Homo sapiens: one gene and its partners. The protein of the gene in region 1 purifies or fractionates together with the protein of each later gene. This does not show direct contact. Each region holds a gene or a part of one and is shown in the gene's direction. Other genes may lie near its edges.

Region 1 (3,500 bases):
AAAATGATTTTGAATTCCTACAATATTACACAAACATTCCCATAAATTATGGTTATGAAATACAAATATGACTGGTCGTTTACTTTTATTCCCTACTTCTGATGTTTTACCAGATTGTTGATTTTTTTTTCCATTCCAGTGTATCTCATAGTCATGTTCCCATTCTGTTACTATTCCTTTTTTTAAAAAAAATGTATTTATTTTTAGAGACGGGGTCTTGCTATGTCACCTATGCTAGATTCAAACTCCCGTGCTCAAGTGCCACCACACCTGGCTGGCTTCTGTAACTAGTCTCATGCAGTCTATGGCCACCTCTCCTGGCAACAACTTTCTGAGTAATACTTGCTTTCATGAACATTACCCCCCCTTCCCTCCAAGTCAGCCAAAATACCAGTGCCAGCCCCATTAGAAATCTAGCCTTCACCACTGCATGTGAAACCTGCAATGTGGACAACTGATTTCCCTTTTATATTTAACCTCTACCTGCTTTTCAATGCCCTGCATAATCTGGTCCAGACCTTTGCTCCGTACTCTCCAGGATGTCCCATTTGCTCCAGCCAGGCCATTGTCTAGACTGGTGCCCCACAAATACACCTGGCTTCACTTCCTCATTCATGATATCCCTCCTTCTCATAATCCCTCTTGAAAATCCTACTCCCCCTCCATAATTCAGCTCAAGCCTCACTTCCATTAAATTTCCACTGACTACTTGGAGATTTTACTCACCTCAGAGCTACAGTAGCATTTAATAGTAAGCTGTCTTGCATTTTTTCTGTTTCCTGTGTATACATTTGTTTCTGTAACTAGTCCCTAAGCTTCCCGTGTTGTGGTCCTTGTGTTAGGATCACTGTATACCTCACAATGCTTAGTGTAAATGTTTATCAAGTGTATGAAAACCTAGTATCATCCAAAAGGAAATGAAACATCTGTTTCAGTTGATTAAAATAAATTCTCACTGCTAGAATCCCCTCATTTGTATACTGGAGTTGAGAAGCATCCTATCTTCTGTTTATTTCACAGTTAAGAATAGTATATTTTTTTGTAGCTTATGTATGAAAACAAATACTCCTTTTTCATTTTCTAAATACAAAGTTATAATTTTCAAAGAACTTCCACATCAGTGTCATAAGCATTGAGAAGCCATTGGAAGTTGTTTAGTAGTTGAGTGAATGACAGTTGGCTCTCCAAGTTTCTGATCCTTGGTGACTGACTGGAATAATGCTGATGCCATCGAAGAAGTCTGGGAATCATAGCATTAGGAAGGAACGGACTTCAGAAATGTGCAGCATAAACTGCTTCAGCTTCCAGGTAGGGAAGCTGGGGCCCTCGGAGGCCGAGGAGACAGTCCCTGGCTGGTGGCAACACTGGGACTGGGGTCGAGGTGTCTTGACACCCGTTCAACTGCTTTGAGCTCTGGAGCATTGGTAAGGGAGTCCAGGTTCTGAGCTGGTCTGAGATCTCTTTAATTTAAGGTGACTCGAGAGCTTCCCACATAACGGTGTCCTTACCCAAATGATGCTGTTAGCCCTTCAGTCTCTGCTTCCAAAATTACCTAAGACTGTGAAGAGGAGTGATTCTTAAGAGACTGTCTGCAGTGTGCTCTGCACAGCTTTTCAGCTGTAGGTTCCCCGAGCATAACTGTTTATCTCATTGGAAAGTGGGGTTAGCTCCAGAATCCATTTACTGTTCACCCTTGAGATGTGTAATTTGTTGAAATGGCACATCTGTCATGGAGGGCTTTCAAGTTGTTTTTTTTTGTTGTTTTGTTTTTTTAAAGGAACTGCCTTATACCATTAAGTTTTCAGAGTTGTTGGATTTGGAACCTATAACAGCTAGGGAGAGAGAAGTAGCTTGAAAAGATCTCCTTGATGTCATTTACTTCTCTTTGTAATAGAACATGAAACTGCGCCATATACCACGCAGTTTTTTAGTCCATGACTTCTGAGAGAAGTTTGATTTATGTATTTTTTTTTTTAAAGTTAAAGCTACTTTGTTATGAAAATGTTTGTTGCTCCTTCTCAGTGTGTTAGCAGCAAGGTCCATGGCCAAAACATGAAGCTTGTCCAGTGGGATGGTGTAAAGAGCCATGTCCCAGGATGTCCAGGGTAAAATTGCAAACTAATAAGAAAAGGGTAACGTGAGAATTTATTCGGTAATTCTTGTTCATTTTCAGGTGCTGTATATATTGACCAGTACTGCAATCCTCTCTCCGACATCAGCCTCAAAGACATCCAGGCCCAAATTGACAGCATCGTGGAGCTTGTTTGCAAAACCCTTCGGGGCATAAACAGTCGCCACCCCAGCTTGGCCTTCAAGGCAGGTGTGGCATTGCTTTGGATCCAGCTGTATTTATGAAAGAAAATCTAGAGGAATTGGTTAATTTGAGAGATTTGTTAGTGTGCTGCCATTATGTCATGAAAAAGTGATAAAATGACGTGACCACGTGTTTACCTGGTTGAAGTGTTGAACCTAAAACACTTCAAATACATACTGCCTTCTGCTTCCTAGATTGGCAACACTTGATTAATATTGTTAGGCCATTGCCAATGTCTTCATGTTGTGAGTTGTTTGGGGCACCTGTCACAACCTTTTTTGTGCTTGGGTCCCAGAGTAGATCTCTGTGTTTCAGGTGAATCATCCATGATAATGGAAATAGAACTCCAGAGCCAGGTGCTGGATGCCATGAACTATGTCCTTTACGACCAACTGAAGTTCAAGGGGAATCGAATGGATTACTATAATGCCCTCAACTTATATATGCATCAGGTAAATATAGGTACAGTAATATATGGGTATAGTAATATAGGTATAGTAACTTTTTTTTTCTGTTTTTAGAGACAGGGTCTCGCTCTGTTGCTCAGGCTGGAATGCAGTGGCGCGATCATAGCTTACCGCAACCTCAAACTCCTGGGCTCAGGCGATCTTGCCGCCGCACCCTCCTGAGTAGCTAGGACTACATGCCACCACACCCGGCTAATTTTTTATTTTTTGTAGAAATGAGGTCTTGCTATGTTGCCCAGCCTGGTCTCAAACTCCTGGCCTCAAGTGATCCTCCTGCCTTGGCCTCCCAAAGCGCTGGGATTATAGGTGTGAGCCACTGTGCCCATCCTATATGTATTTTTTTAAGCTTCTCTCTGATGGACCGTACATTCTTGAAGGTCAGTACTATGCCTTCCATCTCTGAGTGCTCGATGAAACTTATTTTTCCTTCTGCTGTAAGGATATTGTTGTGGAGTTTATCTGTTTCCTCATGGAGTATCCTCCATATGCAAACCCTTGAGATAAATTTTTGACTAAAAATAGATATTTCTCTGACTCTGTTTGGTCAGTTTGTATCTTGTGAACACTAAACTGTAAAACTAATCAGGGTCCTCTTTGCACTGGCCTCTAGCCATTTGGGAGAACCTGTGGCCCAGCTGTGTCAAGTTTGCATCTGTTATATTTATTTTTTATTTGCTTTCTGCCTAGTTCCATTTTCATATTTAGTTTGTTGCCCTGTC
Region 2 (4,287 bases), on another chromosome or scaffold:
TCAGACCCAGCAATTAGACAAAAGGGTCAGCAAACTATGGTCGATGGGCTACATCTGCCCACTGCATGTTTTTGTAAATGAAGTTTTATTGGGACACAGCCATACCTATTCACTTTTGCATTATCTATGGCTGCTTTTGCACTTTGATGAAAGAGTTGAGTAGTTGAGACAGACACTGTTTGACCCACAAAATCTAAAATACATACTATCTAGCCCTTCCTAGCAAACATTTGCCAACCCCTAGAAAACTTTTAAAAAATGATGCTCTTCGACTTGAAATTTTTATAATCTTCTGTTTATTGTCAATAGGTGCTGCTGATTTTCAAAAAATGACTTAGAATCCTCAAATAAGTATACAGCCTTATATGCTGCTTAGACACCAAAGCTATGATAAGATTTGTCAGTTCTTTGTATCAGATGGGTTCAATTCTTGACATCAGCTAATGTTATAAAAATAACTACAAAATTGGTTGTAATAGAACCAAATCTAAGACTCTTTTTAATAAAAAAGATCACCATTGCTGGTGAGAAACCTATACTGAATGGGTGAGATGCCATTGCATTTATCTGAAGTTTCGTCTTTATAATCAATAATCATATACAATCCTAGTCAAGAAACTCATCTTACAGTCCTTGGGGATTGAACACTGTGAAAATAAACTTTTACTCTTCGGATGTGCTTGGATTTTGTTTTAAATTAAGAACTACAGAAATATATATCATTTCTAGTGGTAGAGGAAAATATTGCCACCCAGAACTTTCTGAATGTCTCTTTCTGCCCTAGGTCCATTTGTGATGAACACCAATGAAGAGATTTCTCAAGCTATTCTTGATTTCAGAAACGCAAAAAATGGGTTTGAAAGGGCCAAAACCTGGAAATCAAAGATTGGGAACTAGTGGAAAGCGGAAGAGCAGGTCTTGATGTGTCCTAGAATTTTGCCATTTCTGAGATTGAGCCATTGAAGGCATTCCATTTCTAAAGCTTATTTAGCCGGTGCTTCTAAAGAATTCCACACTAACGTGATAACATGGTTTTTGTAACAATAAATGTAGGATATTTCCTGGCACATGCAAATAAACCTAATCATTGTTTCTTTAAAAATCAGTGTTTTTCATTTGAGATACCTAAGTTACTAAGCTTCTGTTTAAAAAGTCGTTTTGTGTATGTTTGCCTTTTTTTGCATGTATGGATGGATGTTTTTATTATTTTTGTGCATGTGCAGGTTTTAAAAATCATATTTGATTGCTTTCTGTGTGTCATTGGCAGCAGATGCATGAGCATCTGAGGTCCCTTCTTAAGCAATCCCACTGAGATACAAAGGTCAAAGCTATGTGCTGGGGTTTCATGTTACAGGTTATCTGCTTTAAAATAACGGCAGCCCTGAACATTTGAGTCAGTTCTTAAAACTGCCCTGCTATTGGTAGGGACGCAACAGGATTACAGCCAAGACTTCTCTGCATTTTCTGCCAAAATCTGTGTCAGATTTAAGACACATGCTTCTGCAAGCTTCCATGAAGGTTGTGCAAAAAAGTTTCAATCCAGAGTTGGGTTCCAGCTTTCTGTAGCTGTAAGCATTGGTGGCCACACCACCTCCTTACAAAGCAACTAGAACCTGCGGCATACATTGGAGAGATTTTTTTAATTTTCTGGACATGAAGTAAATTTAGAGTGCTTTCTAATTTCAGGTAGAAGACATGTCCACCTTCTGATTATTTTTGGAGAACATTTTGATTTTTTTCATCTCTCTCTCCCCACCCCTAAGATTGTGCAAAAAAAGCGTACCTTGCCTAATTGAAATAATTTCATTGGATTTTGATCAGAACTGATTATTTGGTTTTCTGTGTGAAGTTTTGAGGTTTCAAACTTTCCTTCTGGAGAATGCCTTTTGAAACAATTTTCTCTAGCTGCCTGATGTCAACTGCTTAGTAATCAGTGGATATTGAAATATTCAAAATGTACAGAGAGTGGGTAGTGGTGAATGTTTTCATGATGTTGTACGTCCAGCTGGTGCAGGGCTCCAGTAATGAACATGGACCAGTGAAGGTAGGTGAGCTCAATTTTTAATGTGATGAAGTTCTTTTTATTGGCTCATACAGAGGACTTTCTTTGCCCTCACTATTTTTGAAACAATATAAAAATGCAGAACCATCCTAGTAGTGGACTGGACAGGATATATCCTGCATTTCTTGGTGACTGTTCTGTTTCTTAGTCTTATTAAACTTCTGGCCATGAGTATTTGAAAATGCTGGGGTGGGGGTTGGTTGTTTTTTGAAGTTATGGTAGAACATGAGCAGTCTGGAATCTTTTTGGATGGAGAAGTTTCTCCTCGGTTGCATATGCAGATGGCACAGTGGTTTTTTAATGAAACATTGATTTGTTTTTATGACTGATAACTTTGTGGGCCATTTATTTTCAGGTCTTTGTGAGCAGCAGAGGTTAGTTTATTCGTTTGGTAAATTGAAAATTGCAGTGCTTTCTATGAACATTTTCTATCTGCTTTTGCAAATTACCAATTGCTGCCATCCAGAAAAATGTTTTCTCAGAGAGTGTTTGGTTTTTTCGCTTCTTGAAAGGTGTAAAATTCAACACTAATCAAATCTTTGGTTCTGTGAGCAAGCATCAAATAGAGCTTAACGAACAGAGAGTAATGCAAAAAATTAACCAGAATGTTGCTGACTGCTGGAACAATACTTAGCCCAATTTTATGCATTTCATGGATTATATATATTTTAAGCTTCTATTTTGAAAATGATTCGGATGTAATTGTTTTGACTGAAGTGGTGCTAAATCATTATTGATTTAGGAACTTCTGGCCTTGAAAAGACAATTAAATGTGAGTTTGAGTTTTTGTAGCTGTTGTTTAGGACGTGCATTTTCAACAGGGGTGATATCGCCCCCAGCAGGGGAAAATTGGTTCGTGGAGGGATGAAAAAGTTTTACCCTTTTGATACATCACGCACAGACGTACATACAGTACATATGGTATGTAGTTTAAAATACGTTATACATTCAAATTGCATAGGGGGAAAGTGTCTTCAAAGGCTCCTGGCTGGTGTTGGTGGCCTGGCGAGGGTGGGGGCTGATATTTAAAAATGTTGAACACTGAGCTGGAGGTGAGTGGGAAGTCACCTTGTCTGGCAGCCAGCACTTTTCTAACTTCTCAAATTCCAAATTTACATGGGAGAAATCACAGTGTTTGGCTCCATTTTACTGCCACCAGCCTTGATATTGGATCTCAAGGCCAGATTGTAGGTAAATGGGAATCTGACTGTAAGCATAGGTAACAGGAGAAAACGGTCTGACTTGTTTGAAGCAAGTAAGACTTTTCCGACTGTCCAGCTTTTTCGTAAGTTCATGAAACAGAAATCCTTTAGATGTGCTGGGCTCCTCGAGTTTTAAAATATTTCCATTTTCCTTGTAAAACATCACTTTATCTGATGGTATAATAAAGGAGACTGAATTGTTGGACATAAGTCATATTCTTTAGGTTGCTCAGCTCTTTCAAAGAGCACAAGCACCAAGAATGTCTCAGGTGTCCTGGGCACTGTGAAGTTTTATTTATTTATTTATTTATTTATTTGAGACGGAGTCTCACTCTGTCACCCAGGCTGGAGTGTAGTGATGCAATCTCAGCTCGCTGCAACCTCTGCCTCCCGGGTTCAAGTGATTCCCCTGCCTCAGCCTCTCGAGTAGCTGGAATTATAGGCACGTGCCACCATGCCGGGCTAATTTTTTGTATTTTTAGTAGAGACAGGGTTTCACTGTGTTAGCCAGGATGGTCTCGATCTCCTGACCTGATGATCTGCCCGCCTTGGCCTCCCATAGTGCTGGGATTACAGGCGTGAGCCACCGCGCCCGGCTGGCACTGTGAAGTTTTAAATGCTTTGAATGTACTGTTAATATATAAATTTGTTGAATGGAGTAACGAAGGAAAGCAGCTGAATTTGCATGTGACAGAAAACAAGTTGTTACACGTGGAGGATGCAGCATTATATACTTACTAATACGATTAGCAATTTTTTTTCAGAATATATCAGAATTTCCTTTAAAAAGTGAAGCTACATATACTGAACTTATATCCACCCTACCCCTCGCTCAATTAAATTATTTCTGATATGAAGGAAAGGATTGCCTATAGCTAAACAGAAGTTTTGGCATAGATATGACTGAGTGGTAAGGGATAATGAGATATATAATATTGGTTATAGTTTTCTTTTTTCCCCAACTTTTAAGAAAAGAAAATCTAAGAGGAAATAATGTTTCTAAATGTTAAAGTTCTTCTTGTT
Region 3 (3,500 bases), on another chromosome or scaffold:
CGAGATTTGGGTAGGGACACAGATCCAAGCCATATCAGAGTATCAGGAGATGGAAGGTAGACAGGAGGCTGGAGAGGTGGGGAGAGGCAGGAGCTGATGATGGAGCTGTCCATGGGCAGAGCCAAGTTAGAGAGCACTTCGTGTTTTACTGTTTTTCAACAGATAGAGGCCGGAAGGTACTAGAGGGTGCGGACGGGGTGGTCAGGGAGGATCGGAGGTGAGCCTTGGGCAGGAACCCAAGTTAAGTGCAGCAGTGAGCTGTGCTGATGTAGGGGCGGAGGCGCACTGTTAACACAGAGAGGGTGGGTGACAGTGCCTCAGACTCTTCCTGGCATACGGCAGGTGCTCCAGAGTAGCTGCTGCTGTTGCTGCTGCTATTAATAGGAGTAGTAATAGTGTTCTAACAACAACACAAACATTAAGACCTAAGGTTTGCTACTGTCACTGAGGCTTATCGTGGTAACAGGCAGATGGCGTTGTCTCCATTTTATGGATCAGCAGACTGAGGCTCTGAGAGATGGGGGACCCGCCCAAGGTAACCTTGGGCTGGTAAGCACCTCCACAAAACATCTCTGAGCCATTACTGTCTCTGCAGGAATGCTCGCCGTATGCAGCCCACCTCTATGACGCCGAGGACCCATTCACGCCCCTGCGCACGGTGCCCGGGCTCTGCCAGGATTACTGCCTGGACATGTGGCATAAGTGCCGGGGGCTGTTCCGTCACCTGTCAACTGACCAGGAGCTCTGGGCGCTGGAGGGCAACCTTGCCAGGTTCTGCCGCTACCTGTCCCTGGATGACACGGACTACTGCTTCCCTTACCTGCTGGTCAACAAGAACCTCAACTCAAACCTGGGCCACGTGGTAGCCGATGCCAAGGGCTGCCTGCAGCTGTGCCTGGAGGAGGTGGCCAACGGGCTGCGCAACCCCGTGGCCATGGTCCATGCCAGGGATGGCACCCACCGCTTCTTCGTGGCCGAGCAGGTGGGGCTGGTGTGGGCCTACCTGCCCGACCGCTCGAGGCTGGGGAAGCCTTTCCTGAACATCAGCCGGGTGGTGCTCACCTCGCCCTGGGAGGGTGACGAGCGTGGCTTCCTGGGCATTGCCTTCCACCCCAGCTTCCAGCACAACCGCAGGCTCTACGTCTACTACTCAGTGGGTATCCGCAGCAGTGAGTGGATCCGCATCAGCGAGTTCAGAGTCTCCGAGGATGACGAGAACGCCGTGGACCACAGCTCTGAGAGGTGGCTTCCTTGGGGAACCCGGGCCTGGGTGGGGGCAGGCACCCATATGCACTGGTGTGACAGGACCAGTTGGTATCCTGTTCTCACATATTGTGAATATTTAACACACCTGGTGGGGGTGCTGAATTTCATGCTTTGGGGCCTGGAGAAGGACAGTTTTACAGAACAGACCTCACACAGGCATCATATCCAAACCCCTCCATCTGGCCTGTGAGGCCTGACATTTCTCCACCAACTCTTATTTCAGGCACTTTAGATGCTTCATTTCATTTGATTCTCCTAAAACCCACTGAGGCTAGTATTATTTTTCCCATTTTACAGATAAGAAAGTGGAGGCTTAGAAAGGTGAAGTGTTGGGTCACACGGGGAGGGAGGGTCAGAGCTGGAACCCTGATCTGTTGTCTCCAAAGCCCGCCCTCTGCCCCAGCCTGCCTCGCTCTGGCCTGAAGGTGCCATCTTTTTTGTTTTGTTTTGTTTTTTGAGATGGAGTCTCACTCTGTTGCCGAGGCTGGAGTGCAGTGGCACAATCGCAGCTCACTGCAACCTCCGCCTCCCGGGTTCAAGCAAATCTCCTGCCTCAGCCTCCTGAGTAACTGGGACTACAGGCACACACCACCACACCTGGCTAATTTTTTGTATTTCAGTGGAGACAGGGTTCCACTGTGTTGCGCAGGCTGGTCTTGAACTCCTGAGCTCAGGCAATCTGCCCGCCTCGGCCGAAGGTGCCATTCTTGAGCCCCACTGGGTCCTTTTTCCCACCTGAATCCCCTGCCTCAGGGAACTTGCTCTCCTTCCTGCCCTGAAGTTCATCTGTTCCTGCCTCTGGGCTTTTGCTCCTCTCAACAAGGCCTGCAGAGCCTGCACTCTGTGGATGATTTATGCCCCAACTGTTTTCAAAATGGGTCTGACCTGACCTTGCACGTGGGGCACATGTATCAGTCTAAGTCCAGTAGGAAATAAACCCTGTAACAGGTAACTCAATAGGTAGAATTTGATCCTGGGAGTCAGTTACTCATGTGTTAGAAATGATAAAAGGGCTCAGACGCAGTGGCTCACGCCAGTAATCTCAGCACTTTGAGAGGCTGAGGCAGGTGGATCACTTGAGGTCAGGAGTTCAAGACCAGCCTGGCCAACATGGCGAAACCCTGTCTCTACTAAAAACACAAAAACTATCTGGGTGTGGTAGTGGTTATCTGTAATCCCAGCTACCCGGGAGGCTGAGGCAGGAGAATGTCTTGAACCCAGGAGGCAGAGGTTGCAGTGAACCAAGATCCTGCCACTGCACTGCAGCCTGGATGACAGAGCAAGACTCTGTCTCAAAAAAAAAAAAAAAAAAAAGAAAAAAGAAAAAAGGCAACCTGGGGAAGGCAGCGACTCTGAGGTTAAAAACTGGAGGAAGCTGCCTCTACCCCTTGGGCCGGGAGGACAAAGTGAGAAGATGGGGTTACTGGCGCCCTGGAGCTGGGGACACCCAGTGGAAGCTGGAGCCATAATTGGCCTGGGCAGGAGGAGGTGGAGCCGAGAGAAGGAGCAGCTGTTGCCAAGAAGCTGCTTAAAGCAGAGAAGGGGAAAAACCCCAGTGCTCCTCCCTCTCCAGGCTCCTGCCAATGCTGTCCACTGGCTGAACCTCGCTGGAGGCCAGCTATCTAAGAAGCCTGGGAAATGTCGTTCATAGGAGCTGACCCCCTGCAGTAGAGAGGAGGTAGGGGGAGGGCCAGGACTGGGTGTGAGGGCAAATTGGCAAAGAACAGCACATTGTGTGTTTGATAAAACTGTAAAATCTTGACACCGAATGTATAAAAAGGAGGAGAAATCAAATATGTTAGCTATGAAGGCTAATGTGAAGCTTTATGATTCACAGCATTAGTTTTGACTATGAGCTTCCTGGCAGCCAGAGTGAAAGGAGGAAACATAATTATCAGATCTTACAGGAGCCTGTACAGCCAGTTCTCCAAGAGAGACCAAGTTTATCACATGGATCTGACAGAGGGGAGATGGAGGGACAGAATGGATGTGTCTTCAGTGGTGACTTTTAAAAATGGATTCCTGATAAAGACTTGAGGTGGAACACAAAATACACAGATGAACATATTTCAGAGTGGGGGCTCAGCAAAGGTCCTCTGGTGACCTCACAAAGTCAAGCCTAGAACTTGACTCACTGTTGGGGAAAGGTAGGCACAGCAGGCTCAGGGCAGGCCAGGAATGAGTGGTTATCCTTGCCTGAATCCGCTGTCAGTCTCTCCTCCCAGAGCTGAGAT
Region 4 (3,500 bases), on another chromosome or scaffold:
GCCTCCCAGTCTTAAGTGAGTCTCATGCCCCAGCCTCCCAAGTAGCTGGGAGTATAGGGTGTGTGCCACCACACGCAGCTAACTTTTGTATTTTTAGTAGAGATAGTGTTTCACCACATTGGCCAGGCTGGTCTTGAATTCCTGGCCTCAAGTGATCGGCCCACCTTGGCCTCCCAAATTGCTGGGATTACAGGCATGAGCTTACCGCACGCCTGCACGCAGCCTTAAGGTCAGTCTTTGTAGTCGTAAAATGAGTCTCCACTGCTTGCTTATGGTGCAAAAACCAAACTCATTATAATAAATATAGGATTCAAGTCCTTTTAGAGGCTTTTACCTTTCCTGCCTTACTCCTACCACTCTTATTCCACGTTCCAGCCTTGCTAGCCTGCTGTACTCACACTAAATTACTTCTGGTGTTTCTAACAAACCATATTATGTTCCACACTACCTAGCACACTTAAACTCATCCTTTTAAGATCTAGGTTGCTGTTACCCCTACTTCTCTCTGCTTTTCCCCAGAGATAATTAATTGCACTTTCTTACTACCAAGATACTTAGTACATTATTCTACTAGTGCACCTGTCAGACCATATTGTAGTTACTTATTCATATTTTCAGGTTGCTATAAGCCCCTTTTGGGAAGGTCTTTTACGGTTACAGGCAATAGAGTGTAGAGGTTAACAGCTCAAGTTCTGGAAGCAGACTTATAGATTCAATTTGTGGCTTCCAAATTCACTGGCTATGTAATCTTGAGCAAGTTAACTACCTCTCTCGTCTGAAAGAAAAAGGTGGGTGGGGTAGACAGTAGTACAGATTATAGTTCATATTGACAGATTTTCACAAAGATTAAACAAAATCTACATGAAGTGTTTTACATAGTACCTTTCATGTACTAAATGCCTTTTTTTTTTTTTTTTTAGGCAGAGTTTTACTCTGTCACCCAGGCTGGAGGGCAGTGGCACAATCTCAGCTCACTGCATCTCCCAGCTTCAAACAATTCTCCTGCCTCAGCCTCCCCAGTAGCTGGGATTACAGGCGTGTGCCACCACACCCAGCTTTGTGTGTGTGTGTGTGTATTTTAGTAGAGACGGGGTTTCACCATGTTGGCCAGGCTGGTCTCAAACTCCTGACCTCGGCCTCTACTAAATGCTTAATAATTGTTATCTATTATTATCCTCATCAAAGTTCCAACTCCTAGTACAGTGCCTGGCACATAATAGACATAATTCAATGTTTGCTGTACTTTTAGTATGAATCAAGAACATCATTTCTAAATAATCACTTGAAGAAACCACTTTCTCATTGAATATTGAGTAATTCATTCACACAACCTATTATGGAGAACTCACTGTATGCCAAGCACTGTAGTGGGTTTGGGGAATATAAAGGTAAACAGTATGTGTTCTGCCCTTACCAAAATAATGATTTTGTGGGGGAGATACATACAAGTAAAGCAGCAATTACTATAGCTTGATAAGTATAGGGATTAAGCAAAGGGTACTATCAATGTGCCAGCACATAGCTGGATGTGGTGGTGCATGACTGTAATCCTAGTACTTTGGGAGGCTGAGGCAGGAGGATTGCTTGAGACCAGCCTGAGCAACATAACGAGACCCCCCTTCTCCCAAAAAAAAAAAAAAAAAACCTATGTTACATAAAAACTCTCTAGTATTATCTTGTTCTGCTTCTTCTCCTTACCCTACATGTCACCATGTAAATCTCCTTTGAATTCCCACCTTTGGGGGTTTTAGCTGTCTTCTCTTTGCCTGGAAAGCTGAGCTCTCTCCTTGTTATTCAGGTCTCAATTTAAATATGACCTCCTTAAAGAAGCCTCTCTTGGTCCTCCAGTCTCAAGTAGCTATCCAGTTTCTCTCTGCCACATCCACCTGTTTAAATTATCTACATGGCTTGTGATTTTTCAGGATTTATTACTGTTTTGTGTTTTCTTATTTATTTTCTATCAGTTTCATGAGAGCAAATAACCTGTCTTGCTCTTGATCCTCCTGCCCCCTGCACACAGCTTTTTTGGTGTTTTAGAAAAGGCTATAAACTTGGAGTCAGGGGACCTAAATTAAATGTTGGTTCTGGCTGCATTTTTTACTTCCTTGTGTGCTCTTTAGAAGTCATACCATCTCTCTGAACCCAATTTATCTTGATTTTTGGTGCTGTGTTATTAAAGCTTGCTGTATAGTTCGGGATCTCAAGACTTTTCCTAGTCCAAGGCTAGGTAACTGTGTTACCTTCCTCTTGGCTATTACTGCATAATTAGTGCCTTGTCCTCCACTAGATGGTGGTGGCTTGGCCCTGTGTCATCATCTTGGATTTTCCCCTCCCTCACCTCACTGTTGTTTCAAGGTTTTGTGTAGAGTCTATAGGTGGGATTGGAGTGATAGGAACTCCCCTTGGATTAATTGGCTTCTCTGCTTCTTTGTAGGTGGATTGCTCAGGTAATGACCTGGAGCAGTTACACATCAAAGTGACTTCACTGTGCAGTCGGATAGAGCAGATTCAGTGTTACAGTGCTAAAGATCGCCTGGCTCAGTCAGGTAAGCCTCTAACCTCCTCACTCTTTCTGCCTTCTTGCTTCCTGTTTTTATGATTATTACACCCCACCCTCAGTGCCTACCACCCTTCTCCAGACCCCATGCTCAGTGCTTGACTCTAGTTTTTCTCTCTAGACATGGCCAAACGTGTAGCCAACCTGCTGCGCGTGGTGCTGAGTCTGCATCATCCTCCTGATAGAACCTCCGACTCAACACCAGACCCTCAGCGAGTCCCTTTGCGCCTCTTGGCTCCCCACATTGGCCGGCTTCCCATGCCTGAGGACTATGCCATGGACGAACTGCGCAGCCTTACCCAGTCCTATCTGCGAGAACTGGCTGTTGGGAGCCTGTGAGCCCCAGGCACTTTGCATCACAGTCACATGCCCATTCACACCACACAGAGGTTCCCTGCCTTGTTTGGATTGGCACTGTTTGCCATTCTCTGGGTTGGCTGTGGCATCTACCCTCCCTCCCTGCTGCCAGAAGCAGCATCCTCCACTTGTTCAGGGCTTTTCTTAATACTGAACGTAGCATAAGGGCTTCTGGAACCCAGAAGAGGAGACAGTTTACCATCCTCAAGATCATTCAGTGTTTTTCCTTTAAAAAAATGGTCAATAAAGCTCCTTTGGCAGAATCCCCCAAAGAACCAGGGTATTCTTTTTCCATCCCTAGCCATTCTGGATCTTGTGACCCTCCATGCCAACCAGCTTCCCTACTCCTACCCTGGCCCTTTTATACTAGGACTCCTTAGGAGGAGTGAGACAGGTGATAATGGATCCTTAACAGATGAACTATCCACAGAAGGAAGAGGGATCCGTCTCTTAAGTAATTGGTTAGTTAACACTGAATTTTGGAGGCAAAGGAGGGTTGGCCTGAGTTAGGAAACAAAATGGGATCTTTCTGACACACTTAGGGCAGAAGTGAATGCCTGTCACGGAGGGATTGATCTTCAGGGCT

What was found.
Region 2: the proteins of FBXO21 (region 1) and VEGFD purify together in Homo sapiens (co-immunoprecipitation; one large-scale study listed by IntAct). This does not show direct contact.
Region 3: the proteins of FBXO21 (region 1) and HHIPL1 purify together in Homo sapiens (co-immunoprecipitation; one large-scale study listed by IntAct). This does not show direct contact.
Region 4: the proteins of FBXO21 (region 1) and NUP98 purify together in Homo sapiens (co-immunoprecipitation; one study listed by IntAct). This does not show direct contact.

What each region holds. Positions count from the first base shown.
Region 1 is NC_000012.12:117,173,471-117,176,970, reverse strand, and holds part of FBXO21 (F-box only protein 21), read left to right. Parts: intron 1-2,173; coding exon 2,174-2,320; intron 2,321-2,629; coding exon 2,630-2,766; intron 2,767-3,500. UniProt on the Homo sapiens protein: Substrate-recognition component of the SCF (SKP1-CUL1-F-box protein)-type E3 ubiquitin ligase complex.
Region 2 is NC_000023.11:15,381,614-15,385,900, reverse strand, and holds the start of VEGFD (vascular endothelial growth factor D preproprotein), read left to right. Parts: upstream 1-1,487; 5' UTR 1,488-1,954; coding exon 1,955-2,044; intron 2,045-4,287. Other genes in the region: PIR (pirin), read left to right, coding at 785-897. UniProt on the Homo sapiens protein: Growth factor active in angiogenesis, lymphangiogenesis and endothelial cell growth, stimulating their proliferation and migration and also has effects on the permeability of blood vessels.
Region 3 is NC_000014.9:99,651,629-99,655,128, forward strand, and holds part of HHIPL1 (HHIP-like protein 1 isoform a precursor), read left to right. Parts: intron 1-595; coding exon 596-1,242; intron 1,243-3,500.
Region 4 is NC_000011.10:3,675,555-3,679,054, reverse strand, and holds part of NUP98 (nuclear pore complex protein Nup98-Nup96 isoform 1 precursor), read left to right. Parts: intron 1-2,434; coding exon 2,435-2,546; intron 2,547-2,678; coding exon 2,679-2,896; 3' UTR 2,897-3,500. UniProt on the Homo sapiens protein: Plays a role in the nuclear pore complex (NPC) assembly and/or maintenance. NUP98 and NUP96 are involved in the bidirectional transport across the NPC. May anchor NUP153 and TPR to the NPC.